Linked DNA regions of Homo sapiens. The protein of the gene in region 3 interacts with the protein of the main gene of each other region in a pairwise test. Each region holds a gene or a part of one and is shown on either strand. Other genes may lie near its edges.

Region 1 (3,128 bases), on a different chromosome or scaffold from region 3:
AAAAAGGAATATTAAGAAAACGAATTCTAACATGAACCTTTATGTAGTACAAGTTCAGGCTCTTGCATTTTTTTTTTGGGTAGGTCTCTTTCTTGTCCAGGCTGGTCTAGAACTCCTGGGCTTAAGCGCTCCTCCTGTGTCAGCCTCCCAAAGCGTCGGGCTTAGAGGCGTAAGCCACGCACTCAGCCTCTGGAAAGGATCTTAAGGGCATGTGGTTCACCAACCTCTACTCTTCCAGGGCCAGTCTAGGGTCCCAACATCTCCATCTTCAGCCCCTAGCTCTGGGCCAGGATGTGCACACACACCCCGATAGGCGCTTCTCCCTCAGAGCTTCGCCACTGTTCGACAGGTCCAAACATGAATGTCACCTCCACTCCTGCCGTATTTGGGCTCACCCAGTTCTCCCCTGGAGGTGGCACTCCCTGTCCCTCCTGTGTGGAGACACGCATTGAAAATGACTGTCTCCAACAACCCAGGACTTTAAAGCAAGGCAAACAAACACACACCAGGAACTTGTTCATCAAGTCTCAAAAACACCAGTATTACCAGTCGTATGATTCAAGGATTTATTAAGTCATACATGCAAAACATAATGCTAATTGCATTAGCAAAAGATCAATGTAAAAACACTCCACAATTCTGCAACTGTCAATTTAAAAAATTCTGTTGTAGTGGCTGAAGGGTCCCACGCTGTATTCTCGCCAGTGAGTTAAGTTGTACAGAACATCGTCAGCACTAGCACAGTTTACAGAACCTCACAGACCCAAAGGAACATCAATAGGCAAAGCGACTACAGGAGGCGTGTGTCCGCGTGGGCGAGGTAAAGAGGGTCAGTATTGGTCAAGTGACAGTGTCGGTAATCTGGCAAGACAGTGATGTTAAGAAGGTTCATAGTTTAAGAATTATCTAAAATATTTTAAAAACTATAAAGCTGCAACACATGATTTTTACACCTAGTTACTAGAAAACTAAGGAAAGCACTTATTAGCTCTGAATAAAGTAACATGGAAAGCACTTTTACTAATCGACAAAAAAACCTTCTAATGCATTATCAGAAAGATTTTATAATACAAGGAGGCATATTGCTCAGTCAGAAGGGGTTCTATAAGAAAAGCACTTACTAAGTTAGCGACTAACAGAACAACCAGTTTAAAGATGAATTAAATGCCCAATTTGGGGAGGCATGGCAGGTGTAAGAGAAAGGAAAAGCTTAAGAAAACATTTCCTGATAATACCAACCTTTCTTTCATCATCTACTGCATTTGACAGAAATTAACCTTTTAGAGTTTTTACCCGTGACACTTTCATTCCTTGTACAATGTAGTGTAAATCTCCACTTCGTATTTTGTCAAAATACTGTCTTTGTCCTTTGATCACACACACCCCACCCGGCACACCCACAGCTAAACAGAATTCTTCATTAGAGGAAATAGCAGTTCTGTTCAAAATCTCCGCAAAAGCTGGTCAGAAAACTCGCTATGAAATCACAAAGACTGATCCAAAGAGCTGAGCTGCTACGCTCACTCCATTACAGTACAATGTTATGTCGGGAACACGTGCTGCTAACTCACTGGTGAGTTCAATGGCAACGCTTCATTCGGGAGGCTGTTCTGCTTTACGCATCTGAGAACTACATAGGAGAGCAAGTGTCTGCACCTCCTAACTGCAGAAGCTACCGTCTTCTCAAAGACGAAGGTCTTTGCAAAGTTCAGTGCTCGGTGTTCTCGGCACAACAATGCAGTGTAGTTCAGAAGGTATTTTGGCAACTCTTAATCTGAACAAGAATGGGGGGGGCGCTTTTGAAAAATAAGGCTTTAAGAAGGCTTGTCATTTTAGGGCTAAATTTTAATAGAATGTGAGTCTGAACTCTTACATTTAGAACAAACAAAACCTTAAAATTACTGATTGGTTCAAAAAATGGTTTTATGGAAAAATTAATCTGTAACAAAAAGTTGGCATTGAGTGCGAAGGCTCCACCGTTGTTTTTTTTTTTTGTTTTTTTTTTTTGTTTTTTTTTGAGCAAAGCGTACAAAGGTTCCAAGGGACAGGACCAAGAACGAGGGGCTGAGACATTTACAACAGCAGGCATTTTCTCTTCCTCTTCTTCACGGGAGGCGGGCAGAGGACTGCTCGGATCGCTTCGTCAAACACTGTCTTGAGGCCTCGCTGTGTGAGCGCCGAGCACTCCAGGTATTTTACAGCACCTACAGGAAACACGACCACACGGCAATGTACACTCGACCCCACTCTCTTCTGATCACACCACCAGCGGGAGGCAGCTCCTGGGGCCCGGGCGCCTTCTGCCGGCTCCCAGCCCTGCTTCCACCTTCCAACGCTGACGTTAAGACCCACAGGGCCTTGCCAGCTGGTTCCCCAAGAGTACACCAGGCCCTGAGTGGGAGACACACACCCTCCTTTCCCAGACTGGACTCCAGTCTCTGTCACTACAATAAAAGAGGTACAAGGAGGAGGAAAAACACAGGATTCCATACCAATCTCCTTAGCCATGGCTAGACCCTGCGGATAGGTGATGGGAGTCAGCTTCTTCTCCTTCAGTTTCTCGATCGTGTCTTTATCATCCCTAAGATCAAGTTTAGTTCCCACTAGGATGATGGGAGTGTTGGGACAGTGGTGCCGCACCTCAGGATACCACTAGATGTGAAGAAGGAACAGAGGTTGTGACACGCTCCTTTACAGATGTCCTTCACCTAAATCACACCCAGCCGGCGGCACTCATGCCAGACACCTAACCTCAGGCAAGGCCTCCCCACGGAGGCTTCAGGTGGTTCCCACCTTCAATTCAAGCCTTGAGCCATAAGGAACATCTCAGGTGTTCCATTAGCAAGCTAGGACTCCCGGATCATGGCTGGACAGAACCACGACCGGACAGAACGGGCTCTACAACCGCAGGGGAAGGGGGGAAGGGAAGAGAAACAAAAGGAAGGGAGTTCCTCCCAAAGCAAATAGATCACTTTGTTTTTGGTAAAACAATTTCTTAGGGTCATCTGAGAAAATTCATCATCTGTTCAGAAATGAGAATAAACTACCTAGCCCAAGGTCTCAGGTCTGCCGCTATTATCTCCACTGAAAATGCCCCTACTGAAGGGCCTCACTTGTCATTTTCACTA
Region 2 (3,657 bases), on a different chromosome or scaffold from region 3:
ACCCCCAGCACATGCTGGCTGGTCACCTTTGTTCTGTTGCTCTATTAAATCCTATCTGGAGGCGTTGCTCACTGCTCACCTTGCTCAGAGAGTCCAGCTTTAGAGAGCGGCCTCTGGAGTAATGCTTGAGTTTAATGTGGAGGCTGATTATTCTCTACCTGATTAAATCTGTCTGGGGAGCATCTTTACCATGGCCAGAAGCTAACACATTTTTTTTTTCCCCTGGCTGAAAGCTTTGACACAGAACTCAGCCAAAAGAACGATTTTTTTTTAAAATGCCTGAAGTTTTGCTTGCTGCCTCCAAGGACCAAAAAAGGAGGAAAAGAAGGTCCTGAGCCCCAGGAGATCAGATTTGCTGGGAGGTCTGATTTGCTTGAGGGCAATCATGTCGTTGACTGCAGGCTGGTGGAAGGTTCTGCAGATACTCAGTGGATGTCAGAGCCGCAGCGCCACATCCATGGCCTCCCCGATGTTAATGGGAAGAGGTACACACTCCATTCCTGCTCTTCATCACAGGTAGCCCTGTTTGAATCTAAGCAGATGAATTTGAACTGCTTAATGTACTCACTGGCTTTAAGATGAGAGTAGCTACAAGATCCCCTTTCACCTCCTCTGAGAGCTCCCCAGATTGATACCACACTGCTGTGCTGTGGCATGGAGCCTAAGGCAGTACAAAGTGGCGTGACTAAAAATCTCACTCCCTTGCCGAGTTTCTGTGCTTCACCTGTGCGAGCACACGCAGCCATTCCCATCCTCACCCCTTGCCCATGAGCCTCAGGCCAGTGCTCTGGACATTTGATGGAATCACTTCAGACTGAAAATGCCTGGGGAAGGTGATCCTACTGTAGCATCATTCTACCTGCAGAGAGGTGTCTCCCCATCTTTTTGAGAGCAAGCCAGGCACGTGTTTAGAGCATGCCTTCATCCCTCATCAGACCTCCTAACCTCCCAATGTTAAGATGTTAACATTTCTAATGTCATGATTTGAACTTGAAAGAGAGGGGTGCTTACAATAGGGAAGCAGTACTGTGCAGCTCATATTGACCTCAGACCTCCTAAAAAGCTTCCCTTCCCAGATGATCTGCAGCTAACATGTTCTGCTTAATTAGGCTGAGGCTGGATTCCTTTTCCATCCATCCAAGTTAAGGACACTAACCAAGCAAAATGCCCCCTACCAAGAGAGACTTCTCATGGCCAGGATTCCACATTCTTAATTCACAAATAAGGCAAGAGACAACTGTGGGTTCATCTCATGGCTGACTCGAACTGGAACCTTCTGACCTTCACAGGGGGACTATGTTGGAGTTCAGAGTAAAGGAATAGGTTGGAGAAATCGGGTGGCAGGATGATTAGGTGACAGTTATACACTTCAGACCACAGTGAGTCTCTAACTGCAAGCTGTTGAAATGGTCAACATATTTACTTTTCTTTTTTATTTACAGGGAAGGAGATTGGTGGGAAGCCCGCTCCTTGACAACTGGAGAGACAGGTTACATTCCCAGCAATTATGTGGCTCCAGTTGACTCTATCCAGGCAGAAGAGTATGTTTCATTTTGTTTTCACTTAACTACTTGATTTTAAAAGTTGATTGCCGCAATAAAATGCCATCAGCATTGGGCAGGAGGGAGAAGAAATTCACAGCAGTGATTAAGGCTGAGTTTTTCAGGCTTTCTGCCCCGGTTTTTACCCTGTGTAATACTTGCACTATTATTAACTTAATGTTTCTCTTGAAGCCTGCTCACTTATTTTGAAAGAAAACTTTCTATCAATACCCTAAATGAAAAGCCAGTAAAACTTGTCATAGATTAAAAGTAGCCATAAAAATATGAAATGCTAGCTAGAGCATATATTATTGCCAACCCAAGTTTCTAAGCCCGCAGTCCACTCCCTCTGTTGGGAAGAGAGGGGAGAGTAGCAAGTAATTGCCACAGATTAAACTAAGATTTTTCTCCTAAGTGTGATCAGAAATATTAAAAGAGTGCTGAAAAGACACCTTCTATGCCCGGTAAAAGTGACTCACATACAGTGTGTCCCCCCAACTTGGGAAATACTACAGTGATTTGGAACCTCAGTTGGCTTCTTTGGTAGTAAACAGTGACGAGCAGTTATTTGGCCCAACTATTCAACTGGTAGCAGTTTAGGAAGGTGTTCAGTAGGCTGAAGGGATCTAAAAGGGATAACCTTTCTCCCTTCTTCTGACCCATGAGGATTAACAGGCACTCCCAAGGGGAAGAACTGCCAGTGGCTGTTTGCCAGCCCTGAGGGAAGGAGAGATGGAGCCATGATTTCCCAAATGCAGGAACTTGGCCTCCTCCTGACACCTTGGGTCTTGCCTCTCTAAAAAGGAAGTTGAGAAAAGTCAGTCACCAAGCCCAACCTTTGGCTCTGCTATTTAATTTCACCATGGATTTGTTTAAGTAGTGCAAGAGGGATTAGACTCCACACCCTAGCCAAATCCCCAGTTGGATTGTTCTATTCTTTAATTCCTTTGTATTTCCTCTAAGAGGATCTGTTTTGTTTCCCACTCTCAAATACTCAGTGGTTCTTAGTTGTTTCTTTCTCCTAGTGACTGTGTTTCGTCATCAGTGAATCAAGGTATTTGTATTTAATTTGTATTTTAGGGCAGATTTGCAAACATCTTTGTGTTCTTTCAGAATAAAAAGTACCACCAAAATGTAGCATTACCCTGATTTAACTGGGAATTTGTCAGCTATATATTTAAGTTATTTTTATAATGGTCAACTTTTTAAATATTTTGTTTTTAAAGAATATTATTTTTTAAAATAATGCCTTCGGTTTTACATATGCAATTAACTATCATTATCTTAAAATACTATTGTTTTGGTGCAATCCATTGTTCTAACAATTCCTTTTTCACCACTGTTTTACACGGCATTCTAATTGGGTTATTGGTACAAACCCAGAAAGCCATTTCTCACAAATAATTGACGTACTAGTCTTTACGCCACCTAATGCTAGATTAAGAATTGTTGCACATTTTGGTGTTTCTAAAAGTCACTGAGGAGCTAATACGCAATGTCTCTTTTCTTCAGTGAAACTTAATTCACAAAAGAATTTGACAGTGAACTCATGATACCTATATTCAAGCATAATGAATTGAAATTTCATTTTAGAATCTGGATTCTTTCACAGTTAAATATTCTAAAAATGGTTCCCACACACAGATTCCAATTGAATGCTCCAGCATTCTCCCTTGGGTTTTGGGGGCACCTGCTGCTCATTCAGCACCTAGTGCTGAAATAGTAACTAATTGCCAGGCTTGGTTAAGGCTTGAAAGTGCAGGGGGAGGATATAAGGCAAATAACAAAAGTCTTGAGGTGACTTAATGTGATGCCTCCTAAAGTGGCACAGAGTATCATTAGTTTCTTCAGGGATAATATATTGAAATATCTGCAACACCAAGTCATTTTAAGGGCATGCTTTTTGACTGGGCACAGATCTCAAAGGTGTACAGTAACCAGTTCTTACAGTTGTGCCAAAGAAAAGATGTACAGGGTCCACCGTGATGGCTCCCTCCTGTAATCCCAGCACTTGGGAGGCCAGGGCGAGAGGATCACTTGAGCCCAGGAGTTTGAGACCATGCTGGGCAACATAGGGAGACAGTCTCACTCTGTCCCCAGGCTAGAGTGCAGTGGC
Region 3 (2,749 bases):
GGGAAATGCCTGGAGGCAGTATCACAGGGAGGTTCTGACAAGCACAAGTGAAGAGAAAGACTGGAGCCCAGAAAGGAAGAGGAAGGAGAGAAGGAGGCACTCAAAGAGAAGCAGAGTATGAAACAACTTCACAGGTTTGCCTGGGGCTGGCAGCAATCCAGTCAACAGTGGAGTGGCTGGCAGCAGAGAAAAGTGTTTGCCACTGCCTTGTCAGCATGGAGTGAATGGAGAGTGTGGCTGCAGATGTTAGAGAAGAGTAGGAGAGAAAAGGCAAACAAGAGGAAATATAATTAGGGCTTTGGTAAGGAAGTGGGAACTAAGGAAGAGGCTAACCAGTGAACTAATTCAGATATGATCAAATAAACAGGAAATGAAACAATCAGAAGGCAAGGGAGAGAGGCAGGACCAGCCTGACAGAAGTGGCAATCAAGTGCCAGAAGTTAACTTTTCTTTACCATCTCATAACCTCTTTCCACCTCACCTTTCATCATTTTGCCCTTCTTCATCCTTTGCTGCCCTCACATACTATCTCATCTCAGTTCCTAACTGCTTGTCTGAGAAGCAGATAGTCACACAAGACATGCGATCTCACATCCTTTCATGTCAATCTTGGTCTGTGCCCCAGCCCCATACCAAGTTACACAAAAAAATGAAATTATTTCATCTTTCTCTTTATTCTGACAACATTATGACATTAAATAAAATCCAAGAGGTATTGGATTAGTCCTTGTTTGGTCTCTGGTGATTTAGATAAGGCAGAACTGAGCCCCTCGGAATGTATTATCTCAAAGAGCTAGTAGCAGCTGCTATGCAAAGTTCTAAGGCCCGAGTCAAATCCTGGGCATCTCCACAGATGTGTGGTAGGGCACGGGCTCCAGCTCTTGTGTAAGAAAGAACAGGAATGAGAACAGCTTTATTTTGTAGCGCCAAGGTCTCACTATGCTCACACCTGTAATCCCAGCTTTGAGAAGAGGATCTGGCACCAGAAGGGTCTGGTAGAAGAAAGTGGGAAAGGTGAAGGACAGGAATCTTTTCCTTTCTGCTACAACCTAAGGACAGAGGCACATGACTCCAGCAAGGGGCCAAAGAAGGTAGCAGCTACTTGGGTCTTGTGTGGGAGATGCCAGACGACTCCAAGGCAGGTCAACTGGCTTTGTCAGGGAGTGGAATGCTGGCCATAAGAATGGAGACAAACTGTTCCAATTTCTGTGCAGCTTGTTTGCCAGCTGCTAAGACTTCTTCATGGTTGGCCTTCTCCAGGCTTTCATAATCCATGATGACCTTGTTAGTGATGAGTGAGAAGCCAAAGACTCGAAGTCCACAGTGCCGTGCAACGATAACTTCTGGTACTGTACTCATGCCTGATAGTGAGAAAGATGGAAACCAACTGTCAGGATCCTCAAATAACTCTTTTCCTTGCCCTTTAGCCTCGCTTTCAACAAGAATTAAAAATCTCAAAAAACATCCAAAGATGGCCGGGTGCAGTGGTTCACACCTGTAATCCCAGTACATTGGGAGGCCAAGGCAGGAGGATGTCTTGAGCCCGGGAGTTTGAGACCAGCCTGGGCAACATAAAGAGACCTCGGCTCAAAAAATAAATAAAATTAGCCAGGTGTGGTAGTGTACGCCTGTGGTCCCCGTTACTCAGGAGGCTGAGGTGGGAGGATTGTTTGAGCCCAGGCAGTCAGAACTGTAGTGAGCTAGAGATGGTGCCACTGCACTCCAACCTTGGCAACAGAGCAAGGCCCCACCTAAAACAAATCCAAAGAAGCAGCTAAATTATCTTCTGTATTGCCTAAAATAAATACACATTTCTTAAAATTACCAATACAATCCTTCATTTCTATATTTGTGGCAATTTTGAACTCAATCCTAATGATAGAGTTCCATCTTCCAGCTAGAGGTACAGAAGGTGGCTATAGTGAATTTTTTAGAATTCTTAGAAACAGTCATCACATTGGCCAGGCACAGTGCGTCGCGCCTGTAATGCCAGCACTTTAGGAGGCCAAGATGGGCGGATTACCTGAGGTCGCGAGTTCAAGGACCAGCCTGGCCAACATGGTGAAACCTTGTCTCTACTAAAAATACAAAAATTAACCGGGCGTGGTGGCACACGTCTGTAATCCCAGCTACTCGGAAGGCTGAGGCATGAGAATTGCTTGAACCCGGGAGGCGGAGGTTGCAGTGAGCCGAGATCATGCCACTGCACTCCAGCCTGGGCAACACAGCGACATTCCGTCTCAAAAAACAGTCATCAAATCATGGATAGATCATTCATTAGCACTGCAGCTGTTAACCCCTTGGTGCTTCGTAGGGAGATTTGATGCTACACCAAATCTCACCAGTTTGTATTTCAATAAGTCAGTTTAATTCACCCTTCCCTGAAATCAGATCCTCTCAGTCCAATGAGGCCTGTTATTTCCTACTCCTTCCCCTTCCCATTTTGCTAAACCCCTCCCTCTTCAAGCTTCCAGCCAAATTCCCCTTCTCACCAACAGCGTCTGCTCCCAGCTTCTGCAGCACACGACATTCTGCCACAGTCTCAAAGCTGGGGCCTGCCACCATCACATAGGTGCCTTCCTGTAGCTCACGTTGCTCCCCCATTTGTTTCCAGGTACTGAGAGCCCTCTGCCTCATAGTCCGGTCGTAGGCATCAGACATGGCAGGGAAACGATCTCCAAACCTAGGACACAGGTTGAATTATCTCACATAAACGGAATTTTAAAAATTCTCCCACAGCTCCTAGAGA

The links.
Region 1: the proteins of PNP (region 3) and RAC1 interact in binary tests that used the Homo sapiens proteins (3 or more experiments, as listed by UniProt).
Region 2: the proteins of PNP (region 3) and FYN interact in binary tests that used the Homo sapiens proteins (3 or more experiments, as listed by UniProt).

Annotation. Positions count from the first base shown.
Region 1 is NC_000007.14:6,401,392-6,404,519, reverse strand, and holds the end of RAC1 (ras-related C3 botulinum toxin substrate 1), read right to left. Parts: intron 2,653-3,128; coding exon 2,493-2,652; intron 2,205-2,492; coding exon 2,074-2,204; 3' UTR 553-2,073; downstream 1-552. UniProt on the Homo sapiens protein: Plasma membrane-associated small GTPase which cycles between active GTP-bound and inactive GDP-bound states.
Region 2 is NC_000006.12:111,705,806-111,709,462, reverse strand, and holds part of FYN (tyrosine-protein kinase Fyn), read left to right. Parts: intron 1-406; exon of another isoform or gene 407-457; coding exon of another isoform or gene 458-516; intron 517-1,442; coding exon 1,443-1,541; intron 1,542-3,657. UniProt on the Homo sapiens protein: Non-receptor tyrosine-protein kinase that plays a role in many biological processes including regulation of cell growth and survival, cell adhesion, integrin-mediated signaling, cytoskeletal remodeling, cell motility, immune response and axon guidance.
Region 3 is NC_000014.9:20,474,996-20,477,744, reverse strand, and holds the end of PNP (purine nucleoside phosphorylase), read right to left. Parts: intron 2,684-2,749; coding exon 2,493-2,683; intron 1,362-2,492; coding exon 1,144-1,361; 3' UTR 656-1,143; downstream 1-655. UniProt on the Homo sapiens protein: Catalyzes the phosphorolytic breakdown of the N-glycosidic bond in the beta-(deoxy)ribonucleoside molecules, with the formation of the corresponding free purine bases and pentose-1-phosphate.